Homo sapiens: one gene and its partner. The protein of the gene in region 1 purifies or fractionates together with the protein of each later gene. This does not show direct contact. Each region holds a gene or a part of one and is shown on either strand. Other genes may lie near its edges.

Region 1 (7,028 bases):
GGGGAGGGACTGCCACTCCATCAAAGTTTGACTCCAGGAAAAACAAAAACTAACGTTTAAAATATATAGGGAAAGCCAAAATATCAGTAGGAGAATACAGTGATTTCAGTTTACTTTGTCCTTGTGAAATGACTCCCTAGTTCTAAAAAGCATGATGTTCTGTGCTGTGAACATTGAGGTAGCATCCTTTTGAAATCTCCATTTGTGTCATGTTCAGGAAATCATAAATGAGCAAATAACAATTCATTCTGGTAGCCCTAGTTTTCAGTTGTCTCATTTAATTGAAGACCTCCACTTCTCTGCATTGACAACTGAGTTACTCGGGTGCTTGGGGTCTGGGTCATTAGTCAGCATCATCATGGTCATAAGCATTTTCAGGGACCTCAGAGTGTGCCATGTGCCCTACAGGAGGCAAGGGCACCTGAGACATCCGCCTGTTCTGTGAGACAGTGATTTCCTGCCCTGGTTTTTGCAAGGTTACTACCTGTAGTGGCTCCCCTGGTTCTCAGCATCCCAGCCCTCTGTAGCCCCTGCCTTGCCCAGTGCCTCACCCCTTCCCAGTGGCAGGAGCCAGTGGGAACTAAGAGCCTTCAGTGTAAGCCCTTATTGGAGCTAGGACTGCAGGTGAGATATGTTCTCTGTAGTAGCGTGTAGTATTTCTAGATATTTACTGATAATTTATGCAATACTTAGCTATGTATGCCCTGCCGCACCCTGTTTCCTTCTCTTACTCAGGTGCTGTCACACTTACTGGTCCCTGACACATACTGTTTACATTGTATCACACTAGGCTATAATATCCCATTTACCCACCCAATTTTTTAACTTAAAATATTTTTAAACCTGGCTGGGCGCGGTGGCTCACGCCTGTAATCCCAGCACTTTGGGAGGCTATGGCAGGTGGATCACCTGAGGTCAGGAGTTTGAAACCAGCCTGGCCAACATGGTGAAACCCTGTCTCTACTAAAAAATACAAAAATTAGTCCGGCGTTGGTGGTGCGTGCCTGTAATCCCAGCTCAGGAGGCTGAGGTGGGAGAATCACTTGAACCTGGGAGGCAGAGGTTGTAGTGAGTCGAGATCATTCCACTGCACTCCAGCCTGGGTGACAGAGCGAGACTGTCTCAAAAAAAAAAAAAAAAAAAAAAAGTATTTTAAACTTCCTTAAAACTTCTTAAAATCAGTTCAGTTATACAGTGTTAACATTCTCACCTGAAAATACTTAAATGGTTGGCATGATAGGAAATTTGACATTTATGTAGCTAAATTATTTGTATTTCATTTCTCTAGTCTTTAATCTTATGGTTTAAATCTCTAGATGGTACCATTACAGCGAGATTAAAAACAAAGAAGTCTAAAGGAAAAGGAAATGTAAAGAGAATCATTCTTCCACTCTATGCTTTGCATTAAAGGATATTTAGAATTGAAGGTTAAGACTATTGTGATAAAACAATAACTTCCAAGACATTCAAAGTGTTTTACTTACAACATTTCATACATTTTTAAGTAGATTAGAAATATACTTTATCATATTTTCCAAGCATATCACAGGGAAAGTAGAGAATCATCTACTACCCTTCTTGACCAAAGTGCCTCCACCTTTGCCCCTGTGATATGTCCTATACTCAATTATGTGAAGGAACCTGCCTTTCCCCAACATAATGTACACTTTCCCACCTCCAGGCCTTTCCTCAGGCTGTTGGCTGTTCCTGGAATACCCCTGCCCTCCCTCTAGATGGGTCTGGAGAATCTTAACCAATCAAGCTTGAAGGCTGAGCGCAGATGTCACTTTTTTTGTATGTGTGGAGGAGGAGAACTGGTGTGGGAAAATCAATATAAGCTTTGGAACTAGGCCACTGGGCTTGTGATTTCTGGTTTCATTACTTGTCAGCTTTGTAAACTTGGTCAAATTTTAAAACTTCTCTGAGCCCCAATTTCCTTATCTGTAGAATAGGGGTAAAAATACCTAACTTGGAAGGTTGTTTTGGGAATTAAATGAGATAATGATTACAAACTGTTTAATGAACTCTGACCTTCAACAAATGATTTTCCCCTTTTCCTCATGCAACCTTCCCAGAATCTCCTCGTCACCCAAATTGAAATTATTCTCCCCTCCTATTTTCACACTGTAGTTTTTTTGTGTGCCTATGATAACACTTGTGCCTGTCTGCCACAAGTTATTTGGTTTCTTAGCTCCACCCTTAAGTTGCACATTGCCAGGAGGCCAGAATTGGTTCTTACTCAGCTTTATAATCTCCAATTTCTTGCACCTATTAAGTGCTTAATAAAGGCTTGCAGATTTTGAATGAAGAATAGTTTGCTTAAGGTGTGGAAAGGGTTAGTTCATTCTTAAAGGACCCATTAAATACGCACTATTTACTAGGCAAACAGAGAAGCAGAAGTGGATAAAGCAGGAGAAGGGGTTAAAGAGCTTACAAAATCTATTAGGCTGGGTGAGAAATGCAGCCAAAATATTTGTAATATAAGGTAGGCACATGGTACAATATATGGGCTAACTGTTAGGAGTTAGTCTCCTCCCCCACAGTTGGGAGAAATTATATCTAGTTCATGAAAGAGGGACCACAGAAGGCTTTCAGAGAAGGGGTTAATTTTAGTATCGATGGAAAGACAACTCTTGGAGAGGCAGCCAAAAAAAAAAAAGGTTTGGGAGGGGGTCTTCCAGGGAACAGAGTAGGCATGGAAATGGAAAATCACCAGTGACATGCACAGAAGAATTGATGTTAGTATCCTTTGGCTTTGGATAGGAAAACTGAAAAGGAAAGAACTGGCCTACTGAAAAGTTTCATCATTTTCTATTGGGCTTCCCCTCCAAGGTCTGTGATGAGGCATGGACAGTGAACACAGGCAGCCTGTCTTACACATAGGTGAGTTTCCTGCTCTACAAAAGGAAAGATACATGCATCTTCTTTTTGGTTCCTGGCAGGCAACAGAACTTTTAAGTCACCTTGAAAGGCAAATTATGGCATATTTCTGATCAGTAAGAAAGCCGGAAAGCTCACTGATTCCTGGTTCCTGCCAGATGGTTGTCTCTTAGGTCTTAGTCTTCACTCCAAGTTATCTGGGCCCCTTCTCTCTTTCATCTTTTCTTTCCTGAAAAGGGAACTACTACTATCTTTTTTTTAACTTTTATTTTAAGTTCAAGGGTATATGTGCAGGTTTGTTATATGGGTAAACTCGTGTCACAGGGGTTTGTTGTACAGGTTATTTCATCATCCAAGTATTAAGCCTAGTACCCATTAGTTATTTTTTCTGATCCTCTCCCCTCTCCAACCTTCCACCTTCCAATAGGCCTCAGTGTGTGTTGGTTCCCTCTGTATGTCCATGTGTTCTCATCATTTAGCTCCCACTTATAAGTGAGAACATGTGGTATTTGGTTTTCTGGTCCTGTGTTAGTTTGCTAAGGATAATGGCCTCCAGTTCCATTGATGTTCCTGCAGAGGACATGATCTCATTCTTTTTATGGCTACATAATATTCCATGGTGTATATTTACCACATTTTCTTTTTCTAGTCTACCATTTATGGGAACCTAGGTTGATTCCATGTCTTTGCTGTTGTGAATAGTGCTGCAATGAAATATGCATGCATCTTTATAATAGAACAATTTATATTCCTTTGGATATATACACAGTAATCGGATTGCTGAATTGAATAGTAGTTCTGTTTTTGGCTCTTTGAGGAATTGCCACACTGCTTTCCACAATGGTTGAACTAATTTACACTCCCACCAACAGTGTATTAGCATTCCCTTTTCTTTGCAGTCTCACCAGTATCTTACTTTTTGACCTTTTTTTTTTTTTTGAGACGGAGTCTCGCTCTGTCACCCAGGCTGGAGTGCAGTGGTGCGATCTCTGCTCACTGCAAGCTCCGCCTCCCGGGTTCATGCCATTCTCCTGCCTCAGCCTCCCCAGCAGCTGGAACTACAGGTGCACGCCGCCATAATAGCCATTCTGACTGGTATGAGGTGGTAATCTGATTGTGGTTTTGATTTGCACTTCTCTAATAATCAGTGATGTTGAGCTTTTTTTTTAATATGCTTGTTGGCCACATGTATGTCTTTTGAAAAGTGTCTCTTCATGTCCTTTGCCCACGTTTTAATGGAGTTGTTTGTTTTTTCCTTGTAAATTTAAGTTTCTGATAGATGCTGGATATTAGATCTTTGTCAGATGCATAATTTGCAAAAAGTTTTCTGCCATTCTGTTGTAGGTTGTCTGTTCACTCTGTTGATAGTTTCCTTTGCTGTGTAGAAGCTCTTTGGTTTAATTAGATCCCATTTGTCAATTTTTCCTTTTGGCACAATTGCTTTTGGTGTCTTGCATAATGAAATCTTTGCCTGTTCCTATGTCCAGAATGGTATTTCCTAGGCTGTCTTTTGGGTTTTTATGGTTTTGGATTTTACATTTAAGTCTTTAATCCATCTTGAGTTGGCTTTTGTATATGGCATAAGGAAGGGGTTCAGTTTCAGTCTTTTGCATATTGCTAGCCAGTTATCCCAGCACCATTTATTGAATAGGGAGGGAGTCCTTTCCTGGTTGCTTGTTTTTGTCAGCTTTGTCGAAGATCACATGGTTGTAGGTGTGTGGCCTTGTTTCTGAGCTCTCTATTCTGTTCCAATAGTCTATATGTCTGTTTTTGTACCCCTCCCATGCTTTTTGGTTACTGTTGCTTTGTAGTATAGTTTGAAGTTAGGCAATGGTGATACTTCCAGCTTTGTTCTTTTTGCTTAGGATTGCCTTGGCTATTCGGGCTTTTTTTTTGGTTCCATATGCATTTTAAAGTAGTTTCTTCTGGTTCCGTGAAGAATGTCATTGGTAGTTTGATAGGAATAGTATTGAAACTACAAACTGCTTTGGGTAGTAGATAGTCCATTTTAACAATATTGATTCTTCCTATCCATGAGCATGGAATGTTTTTCCATTTTCTGTGTCATCTCTGATTTCTTTGAGCAGTGTTTTGTCATTCTCATTGTAGAGATTTTTCCCCTCCCTGTTAACTGTATTCCTATGTATTTTATTCTTTTTGTGGTGGTTAAGAATGGGACTGCATGCCTGATTTGGCTCTCAGCTTGACTGTTGTTTATGTATCGGAATGCTAGTGATTTTTGCACATTGATTTTGTATCCTGAGACTTTGCTGAAATTATGCATCGGCTTAAGGTGCTTTTGGCCCGAGACTATAGGGTTTTCTAGATACAGAATCATGTCATCTGCAAAAAGGGATAGTTTGACTTCCTTTCTTCTTACTTGGATGCCCTTATTTCTTCCTCTTGACTGATTGCTCTGGCGAGGACTTCTAATACTATGTTGAGTAAGAGTGGTAAGACAGGACATCCTTGTCTTGTGCCAGTTTTCAAGGGGAATGCTGCCAGCTTTTGCTCATTCAGTATGATGGTATTATGTTGGCTGTGGGTTTGTTGTAGATGGCTCTTATTATTTTGAGGTATGTTCCTTTAATACCTATTTTGTTGAGGGTTTTTAACATCAAAAGGTGTTGAATTTTATCAAAAACCTTTTCTGCATCTGTTGAGATAATCACGTGGTTTTTGTCTGTAGTTCTGTTTATACAATGAATCATATTTATTGATTTGCATATGTTGAACCAAACTTGCTCCCCACGGATAAAGCCTATTTGATCATGGTAGATAAGCTTTTTGACGTGCTGCTGGATTTGGTTAGCGCAGCTACTTATCTCTTTAAATATACTTCACATTCTTCTGAAAAGCATAAGTACTATTTCATTTATTTCCGTGACAGCCTATTGGGAAGCAGGTATCTGCACTTTCCACATTTATTCGGCATAATGACCTATGTTGTTCTACCATCCCCATCACTCTGTGCCCTTGATGTGGGTACGTGCTCCAGATATGCTCGCAGAAAAGAACCTGGAGCACTTACAGACTTTTCCTGTGCAGTTCCATGGGACAAAGCTGAAGACCCTCAGCCTTGACTTCCGATACAAACACTTAATGAAGGTTTTTAAACAATAAGAAATCCGGTGCCCTGTGTCTGAACATACTCCTAATATGAAAAGAGCACTCATGGAAACAGCTAAGTGTGGTGACATCAGGAGATGTCTTGTTTGTTTGTTTTGTTTTTATTTATTTTTTTTATTTTTGAGACAGAATCTCACTCTGTCGCCCAGGCCAAAGTGCAGTGGTGTGATCTCGGCTCACTGCAACCTCCACCTCCTGGGTTCAAGCAATTCTCATGCCTCAGCCTCCCGAATATCTGGGACCACAGGTGTGCACCACCACAGCCAGCTAATTTTGTATTTTTTTAGTAGAGACGTGGTTTCATCATGATGGTCAGGCTGGTCTCGAACTCCAAGCCTCAAGTGATCTGCCCACCTTGGCCTCCCAAAGTACTGGGATTACAGGCATGAGCCACTGCACCCAGCCAGTTGTTCTTATTTTAATTCAGTTACAATGCAGAGGAACTCTGTCTTAGAAGTTACTTGTAAACAGAAACTCTATATATCAAAATACATTGTCTCTTATTTAGAAGCAGAGAATATAGCGAGAATATGTTATTGTGCCAATAGAGTACTTAAGCTATAAGTGTATTTTATAGAAATGCAGATTTTAAGAGATAGATCAGTATACATCTGATCTGTAGATTGAATCTATACCATCCATACAGTAGATGGGATTGAAATTGATTGAATACTTGACAGAGGGCATTATCAATAGATGTTAAAAGGAATAGAAGATTATCCAGACTAATAATTGTTTTGTTAAAGATCTAGAGAAAAGTTTTGATGAAACAGTGAACACAGTTTCCAGCTCTATCTTCTTTCCTTGAACACGTACCAGCTCCCTGGTTGGAGAATTAAATTTTCTCTTTGAGTTTACATGGCACCCAAAGATAGGCTGTGCTTACACTACCATGGAAACAAACAATATTGCATTGTAGGTAGGCCATCTCTTCTGTAACAAGTCACCGAGGCAACCACTCTGACCTAGAAAAGAGAGACTAAATCCAATTCTCCATGCATCATGGTGCTAGTGGCTTC
Region 2 (7,028 bases), on another chromosome or scaffold:
AGCTATTCTCCAGCTTCAGCCACCCGAGTAGCTGGGATTACAGGTGTGCACCACCATGCCCAGCTAATTTTTGATTCTTTAGTAGAGATGGGGTTTCACCACGTTGCCCAGGCTGGTCTCAAACTTTGGAGCTCAAAGTGATCCGCCTGCCTCGGCTTCCCAAAGTGTAGGGATTACAGGCATGAGCTGCTGTGCCCAGCCTGTTTCTGCATTAATTTAAATCTTTTTTTTCCATAGCTTTTCTTAAATCCCATGTCCTCTGTCAAGCCTTTTTTGAGTATCCGTCCTCGGGTCACTACCTGCTACCTGTAGACTGTTCATTTGGGTGGCTTTGCTGGGGTTGCCTGTGAAGCCATACAGAGGCATGAGCCTCCTAGTGCCAGCCTAGCACATGCCATGATTTTGGTTAGCAACTTTAGCAACTTACCTATTGCTTAGCAGCTTACCTATTGCTGTTCACAAACCACCATGCCAAGCACAGGGCCCTACATGTAGTGGGAATTTGATTTTCCTTACGTCAGCACACATGATCATCGTGATTAGGATGGAGGGAAAAGTGAGTATTAGACATGACGGGTTTTGCTCAACTGGAGTTATTTAAGAGATTGTGATTCAGCTAACAGTAGGAGAACTAGACAGAAAGCTGGCTTTTAGGAAGACTGGTCAGCTTTCATTAGAGATTTTGGTGAGTTGGGCACAGGAGAAAGTTTTTTTTTGTTTTTGTTTTTGTTTTGAGACAGCCTCTTGCTCTGACACCCAGGCTGGAGTGCAGTGGCGCGATCTTGGCTTACTGCAAGCTCTGCCTCCCGGGTTCACGCCATTCTGCCTCAGCCTCCCAAGTAGCTGGGACTACAGGCGCCCGCCACCACGCCCTGCTAATTTTTTGTATTTTTAGTAGAGCTGGGGTTTCACCGTGTTAGCCAGGATGGTCTCGATCTCCTGACCTCGTGATCCGCCCGCCTTGGCCTCCCAAAGTGCTGGGATTACAGGCTTGAGCCACCGCACCTGGCCAGGAGCACGTTTTAGAAGGAGATGTGTCAGTTGCCTATTGAGATTTTTTTTTTTTTTTAGTCCAGTGGGAAATCCTGGTAAGTAGTTGGAAATGTAGGGAAAAAGTCTATGGATAATGTGTATTTTGTAATGTGAATATTTTCTTTCTTTTTTGAATAGTGTCCCGAGCAAGAGAAGCAGTCCTGGATGCCCACTTTCTTGTTTTGGCTTCAGATTTGGGCAAAGAGAAAGCAAAGCAGCTGCGCTCAGACCTGAGCTCCTTTGACATGTTAAGATATGTTGAAACTCTAGTAAGTTCAAAGCTACAGACTCTGAATAAAAAATGTTCTGTTATATATTATAATTATTTACTGTGCTCATATCCATATGCAGATGATTTCACTTCATTCTTCTTTTTTGGTCTCAGATTCCTCTGTAGAGATCTTACCAATTTAAACAGACGAAAGTAGAACCATGTGGTGGAATCTTGGGTGGGGGCTTGGAGTAAAAATCTCGTAGCATTCTGTCTTAAGATGCTGGGTGCTATGGTCATTTGCCAATGGCCATTTTTCCTCTGTTCACTGGTGTTCTAGATCATTCTCAGTGACCTCAGACCTTTGTCCTGGGCTGGACAAAAGCCCACTCTGCGATGGCAGAGCTCAGCTGGAATTGAGTTAGGCCTGGCGAGAGGGCATGTTTTGGTCTGTCTTTGAGAATATTTCAAAACCATGTGAATATGATTGGGTTTTGCTTTTTTTTTTTTTTTTTTTTTTCCTTTGAGACAGAGTCTCGCTCTGTCGCCCAGGCTGGAGTGCAGTGGCGTGATCTCGGCTCACTGCAAGCTCTGCCTCCTGGGTTCACGCCATTCTCCTGTCTCAGCCTCCCAAGTAGCTGGGACTACAGGCGCCTGCCACCACGCCCGGCTAATTTTTTGTATTTTTAGTAGAGACGGGGTTTCATCATGTTAGCCAGGATGGTCTGGATCTCCTGATCTCGTGATCTGCCCGCCTTGGCTTCCCAAAGTGCTGGGATTACAGCCGTGAGCCACCTAGCCCAGCCAGGTTTTGCTTTTTTGGTTTTATGTTTTATTCACCTTTCTTTGTCTCTTGACAAGTTTGAATAGTGGTTACCTGCAATTCTAAAACTGTTCCTTGATGAATTTACCAAAAAAGAAAAAGCACACAGAGACTGACCTTGTATCTCACTTTGTTGTCTTTTTAAAAAATTCTATTCTGGCTGGGGGCAGTGGCTCACGCCTGTAATCCCAGCACTTTGGGAGGCTGAGGCGGGTGGATCACCTGAGGTCAGAAGTTTCAGACCAGCCTGGCCACCATGGTGAAAGCCCGTCTCTACTAAAAATAGAAAAATTAGCTGGGTGTGGTGGCAGGCGCCTGTAATCCCAGCTACTCGGGAGGCTAAGGCAGGATAATCCCTTGAACCCAGGAGGCAGAAGTTGCAGTGAGCCGAGATCGCGCCACTGCACTCCAGCCTGGGCTACAGAGTGAGACTGCACCTCAAAATCAATCAATCAATCAGTCAATCTGTCAATCTGAGCCAACCTCTGTCCTAGCACAGATAGCTGCACCTCAGTATGAATATTGCATTTCTAACTGGATGTTTATGTTAAATGGTTATTAAAATAATTTAGTACTATGAGATCTGATCAGATAATTTTTTTGTAAAGGCATGAGGCACCAGATTATTTCCAGTTTGTTTTTCAAACCTTTTCCTTTTTTTTTTTTTTTTTTAACTTTTTTTTATTGTGAAACATAATGCACTTAGGAAAGTGCACTGTAATATAGAGGTCAATAAAGTAACCATGTATTGGGTATTTCTTTAAAAATTACTTTATCAGGTTAAGCTCTATTTTTTTATTTTTTGAGACAGAGTCTTGCTCTTGTTGCCCAGGCTGGAGTGTTGCCCATGCTGGAGTGTTGCCCAGGCTGGAGTGCAGTGGCACGATCTCAGCTCACCGCAACCTCCACCTCCTGGGTTCAAGCGATTCTCCTGCCTCAGCCTCCCAAGAAGCTGGCATTACAGGTGCCTGTCCCCACGCCTGGCTAATTTTTAGTAGAGGTGGGGTTTCGCCATGTTGGCCAGGCTGGCCTCGAACTCCTGACTTCGTGATCCACCCGCCTGGACTTCCCAAAGTGCTGGGATTACAGGCATGAGCCACCGTGCCCGGCCAAGCTCTGTACTTTAAATAACATATCAAAATAAATTCTGGAAGTCTTAAAGCATTAAATATAAAACCTTAAATTAATAGTTGTCCAGTCTCTGGGTGGAGAAGACTTTCGTATGTATAGCATCAAATATAGACACTATAAGGAAAGATTGGTGGATTTCTCTGTCAGTTAAACAGACCAAAACTGCCACGTCTGCCTACAAGGGTGCAGTGGTAGTTCGGGCGGCAAGGGAATGGAGAAGAGCTGGCCATAGCGCTCTGACCAGGCTCTTGTAGCCTTTCTTTTCTTTAAAGTCTGATTGCCTTTAATAGGGTTAAGCTCCCTGAGGGTTTTGTGATTATTGTTTATATATGATATTGCCATCGTAATTGGATAACTTCTAGGCATTTTACAGTATAATGTAATAAAAATGTACTTTCATAAAAGTAAATTCAATATAACACATTTTCTGTAAGACAGTTTGAGATGAGAGAATTATTTGACTTCCGCCAACTCTTCCCAGGAAGGCAATTTTAAGATGAGCCATTCTCTCAGTGATGCCGGGCCACTGCTCTCTGGATATACTGAGATACAAGCTGAATAGAGATTTGTAGGAGGTTGGCAAAAAATTAAAATCTGAAAACCAGCTGAACTTCCTTGTGCTGTCTTGAAGCTTTTGATTTGGGATTTAATTTTATATTTATATGTTAGTGCAGCTTTACTAATACACGAACTATTGGTGATACAAAAAATCCCAGGGGGCTGAGTTCTGGCATACCTAAATACTTCTGGCTGCCAGTGGGCTACAGCAGGGTTTCTCAGCACTGGCACTATGGATTGGCATTTTGAGCTGGGCATGTCTTTGTTTTGGGGGCTGTTACTGTGCATTATATGATATTCAACAGCCTCCATGGCCTCTACCCAGTATATGCCAGCAGCATATCAGTTGTGACACCCACAAATGTCTCCAGGTATTGCCAGAAGACCCCTGTGGGCACGTATACCCAGGTTGAGAACCACTGGTCTAAATCATTTCACTTTCTCACCCAAAGGTTTTAAGTACATTGAGGAATGTTTTCTGCCAAAAAGAAGGTAGCTTTGGAAGCAGGACTTTAACTGTAAAGTTATCTTCACAGTAAGAAATTTAGCCAGCATGTTAAGACACTGAAAGCTGGCTTTGCGTCTGGCCTCTTAAAGGTTGAGTGATGCGGATTATTGGATGTGGAAAATGATTGCATGTGGCTTAACTGGGTTTTTTGTTTTCCTTCATTTTTGTAGCTCACACATATGGGTGTAAATCCGCTAGAAGCTGAAGAACTCATCCGTGATGAAGATAGTCCTGATTTTGAATTCATAGTCTATGACTCCTGGAAGATAACAGGCAGAACAGCAGAAAACACCTTTAATAAAACCCATACATTCCACTTTCTGTAAGATTATTTTAAAAATCCAACAGACCAGTTATTTGTGAACCTTAAATTGCTTTTTCTTGTAGGGACAAAGATTATTTGGTATTGTAGAGGTGACAGTCATGATGCCGTTGTTTGGAGACTTTTGAAACTTTGATATGAAAGTTCATAAACACTAGGCCGGGTGTGGTGGCTCATGCCTGTAATCCCGGCACTTTGGCAGGTGGATGCAGGTAGATCATCTGAGCTCAGGAATTCAAGATCAGCCTGGGCAACATGGCGAGAACCCATCTCTACCAAAAATACAAAAAATTAGCCCGCTGTAGTGGCCCATGCCTGTGGTCCTGGCTACTTGGGAGGCTGAGGTGGGAGGATCACTTGAGCCTGGGAGGCAGAGATTGCAGTGAGCTGAGATTGCGCCATTGCACTCCGGCCTGGCTGACAGTGAGACCCTGTCTCAAAAAAGAAAAAAAAGTCCATAAACTCTAGATGTGGATGGAACCTTAAAGGATCTCTCATTCTGCTTTAGCAGAAAAGGCCAGAACCTCTTTACCAGTGCTCTCCTGGCTCCTTTGCTTCTAGCTCATGAGACTCTGGGTTTATCATCTTTAAAATCCTTATCATATAGGAGGATGATACCTCCTACTGAGGGTATCTTATGAGTCTCCCAACGTCTAAAGTGACATTTATTATAATACCCTGTTAGATGACCACTGACTTGTATTTGAAGATTACTTGTCACTGCCACATAAACTGTCCAGTTCATTTTTTAGATAGAACTCTGATTTAAAAAAAAGATTTCTTTATATTTGAATGAAGTTGGCTTCTGTCTTAACTTCCTGGCATGGTCCTATGGAGAAATTAAGAACAGCTCTTACTGGCTCTTCTCTAAGAGGACCTTCAAGTATACTGGTTTTGTTGCCCAGTAAATACTTTAGGGTAGCCATCTGAGTTGTTCAGTCCTTCTTTAAGTGGTATAGCTCCTGGGCTTTTGTCTTTTCTAATTTGTCTTTCTAAAAACCATTGAGATTGATAGTAGCTCGGGTAGAAGGCCTTGGAGATGCCAATGTAGTAGTGTGGTGTGGGGTCTGGCATCTATTTTTAATAAGACTTCAGGTAACTCAGGTGCCCAGAGCCATTTGTGTATGTTCTATTTAATAGGATGTAGTCCAAACTTCTTCATCTTAGGATAAAGTCTAAATCTTTGTTTTTTGCTATTGTACTAAACTCATAAATCCTAGGTTATAAAGATAAAGCCTTAAACTTTATCTCATCATCCAGCCCAATTTCCAGCCACAATGAAGTACTTAAAACTCTGTGTCTTTGTACTTGCTGTTCTCTTGGCCTCCAATTCCTTTTCATCTTTTCCATTCGGTAAAGTTTGTTTATCCCACAGGCCCCATCTTGGAAGCCTCCAGCAACTTCTCCAGACAGAGGTGTTAGCAGTGTAGGATCAGATTTCTCAACCACGTCACTCCCATGTCTGGGTAGATATCTCTGCCCAAGTGTTCTCATAGCACTTGAGCAGTACTCTCTAAGCGCCCAGGATCTACCATGTTGCTTTTTTAAAATTTGATTAATTTATTTTTTTATACTGCTCCTTGTGGAGCAGGAGTGTTCCCAGAGTAGCCCACCATGTTATATTGAAATGGATCTGTGTGCATAATGCAGCTGTCCATCTACATCGTATATTTTTGTCTCCTCAAGGGTAGGGACCACATGAGCCTTATTCTTGGGGCTTTGATCTCTACATGATGCAGACTTACATCTATTACTGTAACCCAAGTCTGCATGAGGGCAGAATCCAGAAGGAAAAGGAATCCCATGGCTGTGACTTGCCCTGTTATCCTAAGACAGATGTGTTCTGTAGTCCTGGGCTGGGAGCCTCTGCCTTGGCCTCCCCAGATCAAAGTCTTCTGACCCCACTGGAGCTTCCCCACATACATGTTCATCCTTCCCCTGCTCTTAGAAGTTGGCTTTGCAAAACAATAGGTTGGGTGGTGGGAAGATGTCACAGGCATATTCACTGGCCTACTTTACAGGGCAGTATGTAGGTGTCTGAGGAGGTATCTGTGGTTGAGTAAAGCTCCTAGGAGTTCTTTTAGAAATACAAAGAAGGCAGAAAGGCTGTCACAAACCTTATCAAGAGTCTTACTCTGATGTCAGCTTGTATATCACTGATGTCTGGTCTGAATTTGACTATACCATGCAAACTACTTTTAGTTAGTAAAGTTAGTTTGTTTAACAAACAACAGGCAAAAAAAATAAATGAAAGCATACTTTTCATTAGGTTGGGTTCAATATACGGAGAGTGCCCTGTGCCAAAGCCACGAGTTGATCGTCCAAGAAAAGTTCCTGTGATACAAGAGGAGAGGGCAATGCCTGCCCAGGTTTGTTTTAAAATGTTGCTTTTAAAAAAACACATTAAAGTTAAAATAGCTGTTAAAATAATGTGCATGCAATT

Evidence for each region. The genes of interacting proteins can lie anywhere in the genome.
Region 2: the proteins of BMAL2 (region 1) and NSMCE4A purify together in Homo sapiens (co-immunoprecipitation; 2 studies listed by BioGRID and IntAct, with this or other methods). This does not show direct contact.

What each region holds. Positions count from the first base shown.
Region 1 is NC_000012.12:27,335,824-27,342,851, forward strand, and holds part of BMAL2 (basic helix-loop-helix ARNT-like protein 2), read left to right. Parts: intron 1-7,028. UniProt on the Homo sapiens protein: Transcriptional activator which forms a core component of the circadian clock.
Region 2 is NC_000010.11:121,965,212-121,972,239, reverse strand, and holds part of NSMCE4A (non-structural maintenance of chromosomes element 4 homolog A), read left to right. Parts: intron 1-1,170; coding exon 1,171-1,301; intron 1,302-4,433; coding exon 4,434-4,585; intron 4,586-6,854; coding exon 6,855-6,954; intron 6,955-7,028. UniProt on the Homo sapiens protein: Component of the SMC5-SMC6 complex, a complex involved in DNA double-strand breaks by homologous recombination. The complex may promote sister chromatid homologous recombination by recruiting the SMC1-SMC3 cohesin complex to double-strand breaks.